2 separate regions of the Homo sapiens genome follow, and region 2 is linked to region 1. Evidence: fine-mapped expression QTL. A gene starts in region 1. The other region holds a variant in brackets. All regions are shown on one strand. Distances are from middle to middle. Region 1 holds the start of SPP1 (secreted phosphoprotein 1). Region 2 has its middle 19 kb from the start of MEPE.

What was found.
Region 2: its variant is fine-mapped to the expression of SPP1 in whole blood (TOPMed, PIP above 0.99).

Annotation. Positions count from the first base shown.
Region 1 is chr4:87,970,569-87,978,979 of GRCh38, forward strand. SPP1 (secreted phosphoprotein 1) reads left to right here and starts at 5,146. Exons shown (of 7, transcript NM_001040058.2): 1 at 5,146-5,232; 2 at 6,314-6,381; 3 at 6,491-6,529. The coding sequence starts at 6,328. It overlaps LOC124900730 (a long non-coding RNA gene), which reads right to left and starts at 3,201. Exons shown (of 2, transcript XR_007058172.1): 1 at 3,071-3,201. RefSeq lists promoters at 2,900-5,142, 4,142-5,229, 5,019-5,232, cis regulatory regions at 4,152-4,161, 4,377-4,385, 4,452-4,460, 4,898-4,913, 5,088-5,097 and 1 more and enhancers at 4,404-4,424, 4,787-5,286, 5,049-5,119.
Region 2 is chr4:87,847,265-87,855,740 of GRCh38, forward strand. No RefSeq gene overlaps it. Among named protein-coding and RNA genes, the nearest start is that of MEPE, 19 kb to the left of the region's middle. The variant C/T (reference allele first, on the strand shown) is at 4,124.

The DNA.
Region 1 (8,411 bases):
AGACAGGTGCGGATGAGACTGGAGGGATATTCTAGATATAAGGACCATGCAATGTGAGTAAAGGCATGGAGACCTGAAATAGAATGACACACTGGGGAACCCACATGGCTCTGCATGATTGTTTTAGGGAGTACAAGGAGAGAAGTTGGGCAGAAATAAGGCTGGAGAGACAGAAGAATGCCAGACCCCAGAGGACCTCATGTTATGTAAGAAATAGCAATCACCTGGGCAGTCCTTTTTAGGCACAGGAAGCATGCCTGAAGTTCTCAGGTGTAATTCACTCAAGCGGAACACTATCTATATTGGAATCTGAAGACGTTTAATTCAGGAGGCCGGGAGCGGTGGTTGATGCCTGTAATCCCAGCACTTTGGGAGGCTGAGGTGGGCCAATCACTCAAGGCCAGGAGTTTGAGACCACCCTGGCCAACATGATAAAATTTCATCTCTACTAAAAAAAAAAAAAAAAAAAAATTAGCTGGGCATGGTGGTGCATGCCTGTAATCCCAGCTACTTGGAAGGCTGAGGCACAAGAATCGCTTGAACCCAGGAGGCAGAGGTTGCAGTGAGCCGAGATCGTGCCACTGCACTTCAGCCTGGGTGACAGAGTGAGACACTGTCTCAAAAATAAATAAATATGTTTAATCTGGGGCTTTATGAAGGCAACAGAAAATAATCAGCAAGAATAACTCAATTTATGTAAGAACTATATACATGTCATAATTGAGCTAAATTTCTTCACTGAATAAATATTTTTGGCACATAATCTGCAGAGGGATTAGCATATCATGGAACTTACACTCTATGAGGAATTCAAACATTAAAGAAGAAATCAAATTTTAATATAGAATATTTTAAATTACAGGTTTAAGAAACATAAATGTTATGCTATGGGATAGGGGCATTAATGTAAACTATGCCTTGACAAGAATTGTCGAAACAAAAAACCTTAGCCAAGTGTAACCAGAAAAATATCTGACTGAGCTGCTTTTGTTGTCTAGTTTTACTCCCCTTTCTTTTGATTTTGTTTTCTCTTTTGCACTGAAATTGTCACCTTTTCATATCAACCTTATGATAGATTCTCTACCAAAAATTACTCAAACATCAGATTTTAAGCAAGAATTCTCATAAACCAATTTCGGAGAATGATTTTCTCCCCTCAAATATATCTGCAAAATGACTGTCACTGACCGCTTATTGCCACAAAATGTCTTTTTCTGAACAAACAAGGTCCTCCTGCAGCTGCTAGACTTTCTATTTGTGCTTTTCCACCTTGTTCTATCTCCCTCTTTGGATCCTCTCTGATTACAGCCTCCTCTATTGTTCCCCAGGTTGTTATAGGTCTCGAGTTTATGCTGCTGTGGTTGATGTTGAGTGGGAAGGGGGACTTTCTGTTTGGATCCAATCCCAGAATACCCATCCCTTCAACTCCAATGTGGACACAGGGTCTCTACCATATACCTTCTCTACCCAGGGTGCTGCCAAGTTTACTGTTTAGCCACACCCCCTTAATCTCATTGGTTACTCAAGTTTCAAATTTCCTAGTTGATTTTCATGAACAAATGGGCTCCATGAGGGTAAGAATGGTGTCATTTAAGAAAAAAAAGTTAGTAATTTAAGTCTACCTTAAAAAAGTCTATCATTTAAAGAGCATTAGAATGTCCTCAGAGTTACTAATACTACTTTAATGAAGAAATAAATGCTAGATTCTTGAGTACAGGCAGATATTAGATATCAATATATGAGATATACTCTGAATTCAAGCATAGTGCCTATGCATTGTATTCATAAGCAAAAACTATAAGGTCAGAATTCGTGTCATAGATGCAGGGCTGAGTGGGCAATCACCAACAATTTATTGAGCACTTACTCCATAACAGTTCTATGTGTCTAAAGGAAAACTTTTTTTTATTTGTTTTAAATTGAAACTAATGTTTACCAATGGTACGACCACTTTGTCAGGAGCTGACTTTTGTTGTCTAAGCTATTGAGCAATGGAATAAAAGAGTTTATGGTGTTTTTGTTTTTTTTTTTTTGTATTTCTGAAATGCTCTAATTTCATGTCTGAACTTGAAAATAGCACCCTCTTATCATCCACCTTTGCTTGCTACCCTGTGATAAATAATGCCCCTTTTCCCAGTCTATATATGATGAATGGTGCTAGGCTTCCGATTAGCTTTAATTCCAAACTTCTTTATGACAGATTAGTGGTGTTACCAAAATATCAGAGTCATGTCTGAACCTTGACTCAAGGGAAAAAAATAATTACCTGTGGAGCTGAAAACACTGAAATAGTTGGTTACACTTTACTAAGTAAAATATAATTAGAAATGTTCAAATAAACTGGAAGTGAGTTTAATAAAGTTGTCCACCAAAGTAGTGACATTGAACACTTACTTTTTATTATATGGGAATTTTCATGTAATTCAGGAAAAAGACCTTAAGGCTCTTTATTTGTTTCCATGTGTCCTCTTAGTGTGTATAATTTAAGATCACAAATTACTCTTTGCATTCTAGTTTGACAACTAAACTTTTTTTACTTTCCACTCACAAGATTTATAGGGAATTTGTGCATTTTGACCTTTTGATTCTAACAACCAATCATTAGCCAATCAAGAATGGAAACTTTGGAAATATTACAGATAGAGCCACTGTGATTTAAATCATTTAACATGTTAATTCTGACAGAAAATCCTACTCAGAAAAAACAACCAGCAGCAGCATGTTTGAGTGCAAACAGCAAGAAACATCCCAAAACATGACCTCCCCGATAGTCAGAATGACGCAGCATCCATTTCCTACTTTACAGAATTGCCTCCCATTATAAATCACTTTATCTTCTCAACTCCAAAGCATCCCAGACACATTCTTTACCCGTGAATTCACAAGCCTTTTCTCTGAGAGAGGCCTTGGGACTAGGAACTTTTTGAATGAGTGTAGAAGTCGGGAAGGAGACAATAGTGTCAACTTGGGATTGCCTAAGGCAACAACAGAGCAAAACAAGAACGCTTTGGTTCTCTGGGTCTCTGTCCCTGATTGCATAGCGGGTCATTGTTGGGAAATATTTCCTCACCTGGCATTCCAAGAAATGGAGAGCTCCACAGCTGTATATAGTCCTGTCATTAAATACAGGAGTGTTCTATCCCGCTGGAATTAAGAAAATTGGTAGAACCAGATTGTGGTCTGAAATCTTTTTTCAGAAATGCTGCCATCGTGTGGCACTGCGGAGCTATGACCAGAAGAGTCCTGTAAAGGGTCGTATGGTTCATCTCAAGATGGCTGGGCTCCAGCATAATCTATTCCTATAATTAATTCTAGCTTCATATTGAATCATTCCCGTGGGCACAGAGTAAACTACAGTAAATCCTGTGGAAATTTTGTTGTTTTTAGAATTTTCAGACTTCCCTCCACTAAATTGACAACATGACACGCTTATGCGGGTATGTTTAAAGGAAAAAAATAGTTTTTAGAAGCAGAAAAAAGAAGTCTATTTTGCAACTTTATAATCTGTGTGCTTTCTATTTTATAGAGATAGTCGTCATCTTACTTATTAAAATGGGTGCTTATTACCTACAAACCAATCATATCAATTCATCTGGAATACATCCAATTTAAGGGAGACATATTTCCCCCTACCAAATGTTCATGAAACCTATGAATTAGCTATACACTATCACTGCAAGACATTATTTAATCTATATTTATATTAAAAGTAATATTTGGCAAAAGGAAGCTGACACTTTAGGACTAATAAAAACCACAATTACTTTTGCAGCAACCTAATAATAAATAGGACCATTTATTTTTCATCTCAATTACACACAAGTCTTAACAATAAAGGTGTAAGGTAAATAAATAGTGCAATCTGCATTTCACAACTGAGAAAGCAAATGAAGATAAGTAATCTCAAGGCAATATTAAATATTTTAAAAGGACCCAGAGCTCTGCTATCCCTGAATTCTGCTCTAATATTCGGACTTTCCCTGTAATTTTCTTTCATTCAGACACCTTTTAAATACCTAGTAAAGTGTTTTTTAATACAGAAATTTTTAAAAATGTTTTTCTTTTTAAGTGGCCTACTTTACATACCTTGGGAGAAAAACTAGAAAAAAAGATGATTCCAAAATCGAATCTGTTCCTTTAGAAATGTGCAAAATTTCCTTATTGATGCATACAATTTAAAGATCTTACGTCTACTCTCATTTTAATAACCTGTTCTTTTAAAGGACATTACAATTCGTGACTGCCTGCCCCTCTTAAAAATTTCATAATAGTTAACACACATATAGTCCTTAAGATACGCAGAGCATTTGCATCTAATATGTGCTAAGCATTGCTAGTTTAACATACTAATTCATTTAAACCCCTCAAAAACCCCATGACCTAGGTAATAGTATTGCATTTCATGGATGAGGGAACAAGGATAGGTAGGCTGGGCGATTTGCCCAAGGTTGCACAGGTCAGCAGTGACACAGCGGAATTCAGAACCACGGTCTGGCTCCTGAAGCAGCCCTCTCAAGCAGTCATCCTGCTCTCAGTCAGAAACTGCTTTACTTCTGCAACATCTAGAATAAATTACCATTCTTCTATTTCATATAGAATTTTATATTTTAATGTCACTAGTGCCATTTGTCTAAGTAACAAGCTACTGCATACTCGAAATCACAAAGCTAAGCTTGAGTAGTAAAGGACAGAGGCAAGTTTTCTGAACTCCTTGCAGGCTTGAACAATAGCCTTCTGGCTCTTCAATAAGTACAATCATACAGGCAAGAGTGGTTGCAGATATTACCTTTATGTTACTTAAACCGAAAGAAACAAAAATCCATTCTATTTAATTTTACATTAATGTTTTTCCCTACTTTCTCCCTTTTTCATGGGATCCCTAAGTGCTCTTCCTGGATGCTGAATGCCCATCCCGTAAATGAAAAAGCTAGTTAATGATATTGTACATAAGTAATGTTTTAACTGTAGATTGTGTGTGTGCGTTTTTGTTTTTTTTTGTTTTAACCACAAAACCAGAGGGGGAAGTGTGGGAGCAGGTGGGCTGGGCAGTGGCAGAAAACCTCATGACACAATCTCTCCGCCTCCCTGTGTTGGTGGAGGATGTCTGCAGCAGCATTTAAATTCTGGGAGGGCTTGGTTGTCAGCAGCAGCAGGAGGAGGCAGAGCACAGCATCGTCGGGACCAGACTCGTCTCAGGCCAGTTGCAGCCTTCTCAGCCAAACGCCGACCAAGGTACAGCTTCAGTTTGCTACTGGGTTGTGCATTCAGCTGAATTTCATGGGGAAGTCCAAATTCTAAGGAAAAATATTTTTAATTGTAATGCTGTTAAACAGACTTAAATTTTCTAGCCTTTTTAATAAGCAGATTAGATACATTGCAGGTCTCCTGGAACAAAGGTGTCTAGATATTTTGAATGCCAATCAAATTTAAAACTTAAAAATACTTCCACTGGGTCCTCAAAAGAACGGAAACCACCGATGCTAATCAGAAAATAGTAAAATTAAATTCCCCTTTGGAATAATTATACCTATATAATTTTCAGTGGGTGACTGTGCAGGAATTTAAAAGAAAAGGGATCTTTTATGCTAATTAAACCAATTACAATGCTATTTTTTAAATGATGTATCTCACTTTTAAGGGGAAGAAAACCCTTTCTGAATATGCCACTGCTAAATTTAGCTGTTAAAATATTCACCAAGATACCTGTATGACACTGTGTAGGCTTATTATTACAAATAGAAAAGCTGTTGGCTATTTTCAATGTTTTCCTTTGAATTTCAAATTTTTAGAACATCTTACTTAAATAACAAATTTCAGAGATAGTTTGATTTCACCTAAGTAGCACCTACTTGATAATTAAGCTAAAAGTCACATTTAAAGTACATGTTGGAAAAATGGATAAAGCAAATTTTTTTCATTTTTTTCTGTGAGTTTTTTCTTCTCTAAAAAATATTCCCATACTAGCTTATTAATATAATTAAGTTACTGTTGATCTGTTTGTAGGTTTAGAGAGCTAGATATATAAGGTAGTAATGGTATAATTTCTGGAACTCTAAATTTTAAAGTTGAATAAATACAGACTTGCAAAATTTCCCTTTCCCTTGCCTAATAGTGAAAGATGGATAATAGGTGGCAATATAAATATTAACTTGAAAGACTATAATACTAAAAAGAAAAGGCATCTCTAAGAAGTAGAAAAGATTCTATAGAAAATATATTTTATTTGTGATCATTTTGTAATGTGGTAGTATAAAAAGGTATCACTGTTGTAACCTATGAAGATGTCAGCTATTCCTTATGAAATATTTTGCAGGAAAACTCACTACCATGAGAATTGCAGTGATTTGCTTTTGCCTCCTAGGCATCACCTGTGCCATACCAGTGAGTACAGTTGCATCTTAAAGAAAATTCCTGAAAATAACTGAATTGTGTGCTTCCATGTGCTAGGAGGACATTCTTGTAATCTTTCTTCATCTTTTCTGTTTCTAAGGTTAAACAGGCTGATTCTGGAAGTTCTGAGGAAAAGCAGGTAAGCATCTTTTATGTTTTTATATAGTTAAATCATTTACTCAATTATGGCGAGAGGTGCAAGAAACGTATTTGCTGCGATATTACTTATCTTCTCAGTCAAATCCATTGGTTTACAAGTATTGATTGACTGCCTGCTATGAATCTAGGCCAGTACCAAGCACAGTATAGTTTTTAATAAATATAAGTTTATAAAACCAACCCAGATATTTTAAATATAATAATATCTAGGCATGTATGATGAGTTATCGCATGTAAGATAAGTTATATGAAGTTGTGTGACTTTTTTTCCATTAGTCCACATACTGATCTAAAAGCAGAAAATTCCAGCTTTTGCTTTGTTTAGTGGATTGCTAAGTTTAAAATTCACATTGGATATTAGTCAGAACTGTTTGTATGACCATAATATTCACAATATTGTCTGAGATATTAGCTGAGAAGCCCATTGTGAAAAGAAAGTCTATGTGTGCTGTTTGTATCTATTGTGATTGTCAGCTGATGTTAGATCACATTTTCTAACCAAACATAAGACCAACCAAACTCTTTATTATAATTATTTGACCAGCACTAAAGATGTACCTACCCCTCCACAACAGATGAAACTGTGCCAGCCAAACAACAAATGGGCATTGTCCCCAGAAGCTTGGACAAAAAGGCACACAGAGTTCAATTCCAGTTGAACAGAATAAAGGCCAAAATAGAGCTGCCTTGGGGGTCACTGCAATTAGACTGCTTAATGAAGACATTAAAAGAAGTATTCTGTGTTCGTTTGTGTGTGGAGGGGTGTGTGTGTCTGTTTTTCAACTGATTTGAAAATACAGGTGTTGAATCCTAATAATAAACCAGAAAAATTAACATCTCCAGAGAAGATAGAGGTCATACTATTTGAGGCAAGAATTAGCGTCTTTTTAATAAACGAAAATATGGCAAAGATGCATTTTAGAAGGCACGTGGAGCTATAACAATTTAAGAAATACGTGAAGAGCTCAAGGCTCAGCCTTCTAGAATCCCAGAAACTTAAAGCTAGTAAAAAATTGGGGAAGTCTCTAAGGATATATGCCTGAAAATACACACTGGTTATCTGTGAGTGTTAGGATTACTGGGTGGTTTTTAGTCTATTCATTTTGCTTACCTTTATTTTCTTCATATTAGTTTTTAAAAATTATAAATGTAACTTATACATCCATTCTCTCTGAGCCTGTATTACATGTGTCATGAGAATAGATAGATAGATATGAAAAAGTGAAGAGAAAAACTCTGAACTCATCTGGTCTCACTGTTTTTCCGCCTTCTTTTTTTTTTTTTTTTTTTTTTTTTGAGACGGAGTCTCGCTCCGTCGCCCAGGCTGGAGTGCAGTGGTGTGATCTCGGCTCACTGCAAGCTCCGCCTCCCAGGTTCACCCCATTCTCCTGAGTAGCTGGGACTACAGGCGCCCGCCACCACGCCCGGATAATTTTTTGTATTTTTAGTAGAGACGGGGTTTCACCGTGTTAGCCAGGATGGTCTCCATCTCCTGACCTCGTGATCCACCCTCCTTGGCCTCCCAAAGTGCTGGGATTACAGGCGTGAGCCACTGCGCCCGGCTGTTTTTTCATCTTCTTAAAGCAAGGAACCCCTTCTTTCAGCAAAACCTTTCGGAGAAGCCCAATACTAAGCTCCTCTGGTTAGAGCCAGCCATGAGAGAAACTCCAAGTACTTCTGACTGGTTCTCTCTCTACTCATCCACCCCTTAGGTGGCTGCAGAAGGAACTCTGTGCAACCCCCAGAGTTCTCATTCTCAGTGACAGGGAAATGTAATGATTGGCCCTGGATGATTCAGCAGATCAGATGATACTTACTCAGAGCAATTTCCACTCCTTTGCAGTAGCATATTATCAGTATTT
Region 2 (8,476 bases), 120 kb before region 1:
TAGAGGTTTTTTGGCTTTGTGACACTGTTCTGGAAACTAGCCCTAAGTCTCGGTTAGGGAAGGGGGAAGAGCTCTGGAAAGTTTTTGCCCCTCCTGATAAGAAGAATTTATATAGCCGGTATACCACCCTTTCTCCTTTCTTGCCCTTTTCTTGGCTTGACATGAACCTGATGCCTGGAGGAGCAGTCATGTTGTGGCTATGAAGGAAAGGACAAAATAATCCTAGAGGAGCCACTGAACCAGCTCCATCATCAGCTTCCTGCCTCCAGAATCTTTGTCCTATGAGAAAAAGAATGCTCTTTTTAAGCGACTATTTGGAATTTTTGTTGCTGCTGTTATTGGTAGGTGAATTGAATTTGTAATTGATATACCTCTCCATTCTTGACATTCCTCCAAATGAGGAAGGTCAAGAGAAGAAAAGAAAGAGGTAGAGAATAGAGAAAGAAAAGTGCACACATTTTCTCTTTAACACGTAAGTTCCCAAACAACAGAAATCATGACTGAGACATTCCGGACAGCACCTAGATTATTAAGTTGAATAATGTATGTAGCAAAGTCAAGTCAATGTCAATATGTTATGGCACCTTCAAAAAATCTAAACTCCCACATTGGGTAGATAGAGGGTGCTTCATTTACTAAATGAAAGTGGCAATATAAGCTATTGAATAAATCAGACTCTCAACATACACAAATAGTAATGGCTAACATGATTTGCTTAGTTACCATGAGCCATGCTCTGTGAAGTCCTTTTATCTATACAGCTACTCTATAATACGGGTACCATTATTACCCCCATTTTACAGATGAAGAAACAGACACAGATCTGTAAGTATTTGCTAGTTAGCTAGGATTTATACCCAAGGAGTCTGGTTCCAGAGTCTTTACTCTTAAACAATCACTAAACTGCCATATATTGCAAAGATAAATGTACATAATATACACATACATATATGACTGTGTGTATATATAGACATATATGTATACACACGTGTACATAGATCGTGTGTATATTCATCCACATAATATGAATATGTGTGAGTATATGTGTGTTCATGAGTGCACACACACAGAGAGAGAGAGAGAAACTTGAAAGAATACAAAGTAGAATCTAAAAACAAGGAATCTTTTTTTCCCTCATTTGTTCCCTATCTTCTGGAAATAACAGGTCAGAATCAAGGGAAAGACTGAACATATCACCCAATGTTACCATCAGAATTCCAGAATAAACTATTCCTAGTAATTTGCTTTTTAAAAAATAAAAGACAATTTGGGGGAAAAAAAACTGGAGGCAATTAATGAAGTAAAAAAAAAACTCTATCAGAATTTAAATTGCAGATTAATAAATTGAAATCAAACTGCTACTTATATTTCAGGTTTATATCAGAGCTTTACATGCGAATGGTCTGATCACATAAAAACACTTGTCGTGGTAAAAGAAAAATATGAACTGATGGAGAAAAACGGATGCTTTCTTTGGGTAAATACAGATGGACCCTTCCAAAAGTCACCTGTCGTAGTCTGCTATCTAGTGGAGAAACTGCGTATTTCAATTCTCTGGTCCGATTTTGTTTCCTCTCTCTAAGCTTCAGTGTTCATGGATATTTCTTCAAAACACTGACAATGTTCATATTTTTTTCATCCAGTTAACAGAAACTAGAAGTGTGTTGGCATCCACAATGCATTGCTATTTGATGCAGACGTGGAGGAATTAGTCCAAACACAAAGGACCAGAGATCCACAAGGACAGTCAGTAGTCAAGAGTGAGGCCCATGCCTTATCCAAAACCATGTTTTAGCCATCAGGCTGCGCTAATCTCAGTTAAAAAAAAAATAGATATCTGTTTCTGAAATTGGGCAAAAAACTTCAGCCTCACGTAGCTGCCTTATAAGAGACGATGGAAATTGACCTAGCCTGCCACCTTGTGCTCAAAAAGAAAAGGTCACTGTACCAGTCTGCGAGCAGGCTCCGGTTCTGTTATTTACGTGCAGCCCTGGTACTCCCTCAAACCTCACCTTCCTGGACTTCTCTGCTTGTAAATATTTACCTTGATTTTACAATACTAATTAATCTGTTCTTGGCGCGTCTACCAGTCAGGGTAACATATCTGACCTTGTCTGAAATAACATTTAGCTCAGTTGAAAAGTATTTATTGAACGACCATCTTTTACAAAATTCTTTGGAGATCAAAAGAAGAGATGCTCTTGGTCTTTATCAAAACTATAAGTAAGTAGGGAGAAAGTCATACGAAAGATACAAGGCAGAATGTGTTAAATAATAGAAATATAAGTAAAGTGAGACAGGAGTTCTGAGAAGATGAACTCTAGCTGAAGGGAAGAGCCAGGAGATAGTAAAATCTATTTTACCCAACGTATTACACATGTAGAGAGGCTGCAGACAATAAGCCTCACTAGTACATAAGAGCTTCACAGTGGCGACCTTAAGTGATCCCATGTGTAGTTTAGAGCTTAAGATAGCTCTCCCCAACCAGTGGATGGGGAAGGAGTGGTAAGCAAGGTAGGGTTCAGGGGAGTTGGAAGGAAGAAGACCAGCCAGGAGGAAGTTGCTCAACAGACTTTCTCTGCGGTCTAGAATAAACATTGTGTTATCTCCTCACTCTGTCTTTAGGGCCTGCCTTTAACTAAGCAGGAGCTCAAGACAGCGTAAGTTTCAAAGACATTATGATGCTTTTACAGAAGTCCCTTTCAAAAACAACTTCTGTATGAGAAGGTAAACTCTGCTATTCAAGAGAATGATACTTACAGTCACAGGCATTAAAATATGGTATTAGACGGCCCAAAGGAAAAGGAGAAGAAATAGATGAGTCTGAATGCATGTCAGGAAGATAGGAATTGGGGGCTGAAAGAGAAAGGGGCAGATAAATGGTTAGAAAAAATTTAATGAGGAAGTCTGGAAAGAAAAGAGAACAAAACACCGATACAATCCAAATCCAGAAATCCAAATGAGAATAATGTCAAAAACAATGAGTGGACTCACGCAAAAGCTGCAAGAAAATCTACCTGAAGCTATGGTTTAGACTTTCGAGAATAAGAACAAGAGGATCTGTTTCATTAAACGAATAATACTTTATCAATTTGTAGGCATATGGTTTAGTGTAACACAGACACTCCCTGTTTAGAAGTGACTCTTGCTAGATTTGAATTTTAAGTAGATTTTTATAATTGTTAGGTTAACAGATTAATAATAGAAGTCAAACAATCTTAAATAATTTTTACTTAAAACAGCATCAGGAAGATAGAAGTATTAGGTTGGCTCAAAAGTAATTGCCATTACTTTTAATGGCAAAAACAGTCATCACTTTTGCACCAACATAATACTATGTGAAGAAAGAAAGTTGTCTATTTAGCAAAGAGGTAATTCTGAGCAGGCCAGCTGGGGCAGATCTTAGACACATTGCATTAATAAGTGAATGGAGTAATATTTGTGATATAAGGCCATGAACGGGGTCCAGGGATTTCCTTTTTTAACAGGTCCCTCAAATGATTTTAATGCAAGTCAAAGTTTGAAATCACTAATATGGATGTCTTTCCCAGTGACCTTCAAATCAGTCACCTGGGTCTCCCACAAATCTATAGCTAGTCCAGAACTTCCCCTGTATTAACCTACCATTGCAGGAATGTTTCAGTTTATGATGAAAAATAGCTTGTCTTTGTGGATTATCTTATATCAACAAATAATAAAAATATCATTTAAAGTGAACGTACAAGGCTGGGACTGGTGGCACAAGCCTGTAATCCCAGCACTTTAGGAGGCCAAGGTGGGGCAGATCACCTGAGGTCAGAAGTTCGAGACAAGCCTAGGCAACACAGTGAAACCCCATCCCTATGAAAAATACAAAAATTAGTCAGGCCTAGTGGCACAGGCCTATAATGCCAGCTACTTAGGAGGCTGAGGCACAAGAATTGCTTGAACCTGGGAGGTGGAGGCTGCAGTGAGCCAAGATCGTGCCACTGCACTCCAGCCTGGGTGACAGAGTGAGACTTTGTCTCAAATAAATAAATAAATATTAATTAATTAATCAAGTGAATGTACAGGACAGCATTTAAAAATGGACCTTTACACAGGCTCTTGCAAAACAGAAACTATTCACAGTGCATATACGTGA[C/T]TTCCCCAACTCACTACTCTGTGGAAAATAATCTGGTGATTGTAGAGCCGTAGTGTGCCATCGGTCACGTACAAACCGGTCATCCTAACAGGATATGATCACAACCATTCAAAGTTTATGTGTCTCTGTAAAAGACAGAACAGAAAGTGTGACAAGGAAACAAAGTAGGAACAGAAGGAGCAAAAGTTGAAAGTACAAGGGCGCAAAAGTCACAGTATGCTGATTCGAGACTAAGCTTGCTGCCTTATGTTGCGCAAAAGTGTGAGTTCTACAATGAGATCACATGGACACAGGAAGGGGAACATCACACTCTGGGGACTGTGGTGGGGTGGGGGGAGGGGAGAGGGATAGCATTGGGAGATATACCTAATGCTAGATGACGAGTTAGTGGGTGCAGCGCACCAGCATGGCACATGTATACATATGTAACTAACCTGCACAATGTGCACATGTACCCTAAAACTTAAAGTATAATAAAAAAAAAAAAAAGTGTGAGTTCTAGAAGAGCATTCCCTATTAATAGAATCTTTAGTTAGTAGAATTTTAAAGCAGTGATCCATAAATTTCTAGTGTTCTACAAAATCTGCCTCTGTCTTGGTTCAGTGTTGGTGCTCTGTCTTCCACAGAGATCCGGGTTGATGAAAGGCCCTTCCAGGGAAGAGCCCCTCAGTTGCACCATCATGTTATTCATCAGGGCCAGATGAATAAAGAAGGGACGTACAAGTGTGAAAGCCCCCCAGCATCTGAGCCTACCGGTAGCCAAGAGAAACGAGTCTCCAACCTGGTCTTTTGGCTTCCTCATTTCAGCTTACTCTGGCCTGTTCATCTAACACTTACTAAAAGCATGTGACAGTAAGCTTTGAATCAATTCACATATCTTTCTCTCTCAAAATAATGTTTTTAGTTTTCTGATTATGAGAGAAATGAAAAACCCATTATATAAAATTACAAAAAAAGAAAATATAAAAAAAAATTACACTTTCATCACATTTTTCCTCCCAGTTCTTTTTCTAACTATATACTGACATATATTCTAAGAAAACATTATATTCTTTTAGTGTTCTTTTCTGCTATCTTAATTTGCTCTTTTATCACATTACCAAATATTTTTAAATCATTTTTAAATTTTATTATATACATTTACCACAGTTTGTTCAGTCTACTATTGAAGAATATTTAGCATTTTCCCAGTTTGTCTCTATTATAAACTCTTGTGTTTTTTCAGCTTTACTGAGGTATGATTGACAAATAAAAATTGTATATGATGCTTAACCATTCTTTTTAAATGGCTGCATAAAATTTGCTGCTTTGATTTACTGTCATTTTTTTAGCCACATCCCTATTGATAGGCATTTAAATGATTTTTAGCTAATCACTATTCAAACAGTGTTACAATAAACATCACTGGTCATGTATCTTTGTGTACAACAGTAGGGTAAATTTTTAGCATTACCAAGTCTATTTTAAATATGAGATACAAAGATGCAACATCAAGTTTCATATACCTGAGCAAGTAGGTTCTTAGAGCAAGTAAGTGAATATTGCACTTTACATAAATTTGCCTCTGTGACACTTCCACCTGCACACAATATGCCCCAGGGCAGTTAATTCCAAACACTGGTGACAGGCTAGGTCCAGTGGAGTCATCTGAAGATCTTTATCAGAAAGCACAACCCTGGAGCTCATTCTCAAAGATTCCGATTCTTTGGTGGGTCCTAGTATTCTGCATTTTAGGAAACTTCCAGGTGACACTAATACACAGCCAGGTTTCAGCAACACTGCCATAAGAACCCGTATTAAAGAGCTTTTAAAATGGAAAACCAGAAAATAGTCACTAGATGGCAACCTCGCTCACTTTTTGAAAAGCATTTTGAAACAAAGCAAAGAGAGTTTTTAACTTTCATTCACAATTAAATTTGGAAATGTCTCCCTAAAGGAAGTTTAAAAAAAAAAAAAAAAAAACATACAATCAGGTGCCTCTCTTTCATAATGCCCGTATCCTATTACTTTTAAACTCCATAAATAAAAACAAGGGCTCTTTTGTTTGAATAATAACAGCCCCCTCTGGAAACTTAATCTAGTTTTTGTTTGCATACATCTCTCCTATAAAACTCTGAATTTCCTGTTTCCTTAGATAATAAAGTGGAATTTGTCTTAAAAAGTCTCTTTTCTTTCTTACTAATGTCTGAATCTCCTTAAAGCCAAGATCAGCTGTGCTTAGTTTTGTGAGGCTAAACCCCCTGACATTAACACGTTGCCATTCTTTTTCTAACTGGCTCTATACAGGTGCAGAGATTCTTGGAAGAAACCTTAGAGATCATCTGGTCCAGTGCTCACCTAAGGCAGGTTCACTGTGTTTCACCCCTAATAGCTGGTCATTTTGCCACTGTTTACATACTTACACTAACAGGGAGTTCATTACCTTACCTTACACTTTTGGTGCTAGGCAGAAAGATGCATTCATTTTCCACATTACATGTTTCCTGTTTTCTACACTTCTCCTCATCAAACTAAACATTTTTCAATGACCTTTCATGTGCTCTTTCACCACACTTACCTCCAGTTGGTTGGGCACAATATTCCACATATTGTTTGAACATCTCAGCAGACCATGTAATAGTCTACCCTTTATTCTGGCCACTCAATCCTGTTAATATAGTCTAGGATTGTGTTAGACTCCTTAACATCTACAAAATGCCTATGTCAGCACTTGGTCCAAAATACAGGCTAAATTCATATTAGTTTCCCTTTCTCCTTATTTAATTTCTAATTATATAAGTACTAACTTCCTTCTGGTTTTTGTTTGCTCATGTGCTTACTCCATAAAAAACAATATTAGACCAGCTCTGCTCTTTGTACAGTATTATATCATTTATTTTCTGATCCAGGATGCATAATGCTCTATTTCACAATGCTATTTTATTGAAGTTTCTTCAATCTCGATTTTGTGATCCTAAATATTAACTATCACTCCCAGTTCTTAAGATGCAAATACTTCCTGGGTGTTCATTCACCAGTTTGAAGAAATTTTGAACAGGGCAGAGGGCAGGCTAGGACAGTGCCTGCAGCATATTGAAGTTGGCCCCCTTGTAGCCTGATGCTGATCTATTTTTTTTTTTTTTTTTGAGACGGAGTCTCGCTCTGTCGCCCAGGCCGGACTGCGGACTGCAGTGGCGCAATCTCGGCTCACTGCAAGCTCCGCTTCCCGGGTTCACGCCATTCTCCTGCCTCAGCCTCCCGAGTAGCTGGGACTACAGGCGCCCGCCACCGCGCCCGGCTAATTTTTTGTATTTTTAGTAGAGACGGGGTTTCACCTTGTTAGCCAGGATGGTCTCGATCTCCTGACCTCATGATCCACCCGCCTCGGCCTCCCAAAGTGCTGGGATTACAGGCGTGAGCCACCGCGCCCGGCCGATGCTGATCTATTAATCAATACTTTTTGGGTGCAGCTGTTTGGTTAATAATGACTATGGCTCTATTATTAACTGGCCTAGATATGCTCACAAAAGAATTTTGTCAAATGCTTTGCTAATATCAATATGCTGAGCTCTACAGCATTTCCTAAACCTACAAGACCAGCAATAAGATCAAAAATGCAATCAGGCTGGGCACGGTGACTCACACTGTAATCCCAGCACTTTGGGAGGCCAAGATGGGCAGATCATTTGAGTCCAGAAGTTTGAGACCATCCTGAGCAACATGGTGAAACCCATTGTCTACAAAAAATACAAAAATTAGCCGGGCGTGGTGGCATGCTCCTGCGGTCCCAGCTACTTAGGAGGCTGAGGCAGGAGAATCGCTTGAAACTAGGAGGCAGAAGTTGCAGTGAGCCGAGATCGCGCCACTGTACTCCAGCCTGGATGACAGAGCAAGGCTCTGTTTCAAAAAACAAAAGAAAAAGAAAAAAATGAAATCAGAATAGTGACAGTACAGAAAACTGTGATAATGTAGACTTAAAAAAAAACTAAAGGTTTTTTTTTCACCTTGGAAAGGTGAAATAGATTACAACCAAATTACAACTGTAATCCCTGGACACATGTAGAACAGACCCAAGAAAACTCTGAAAGGTGGAGAGAATTAAAAAGATGGGCCAGGGACCTTAAGACTCAAGGAATGACAAGGCATTAAGCTTCCTGGGCTTTTTTTGGTCTCATATATCCCAGACTTGGAGCTCCAGATGCTGGCAGCCCAGAAACACCAAATACAGACAAAAAAAGCCTGCACACTCTAGCCAAAGGAACAGGAAAGGGGCAGTCCAGCAACGCTGAACACTTTTAGACAATAACCACTCTACGCCAGCCAAACACCGCAGAGAAAACTGTGGCCCCAACCCCACCCACACAAGCCAAGGCT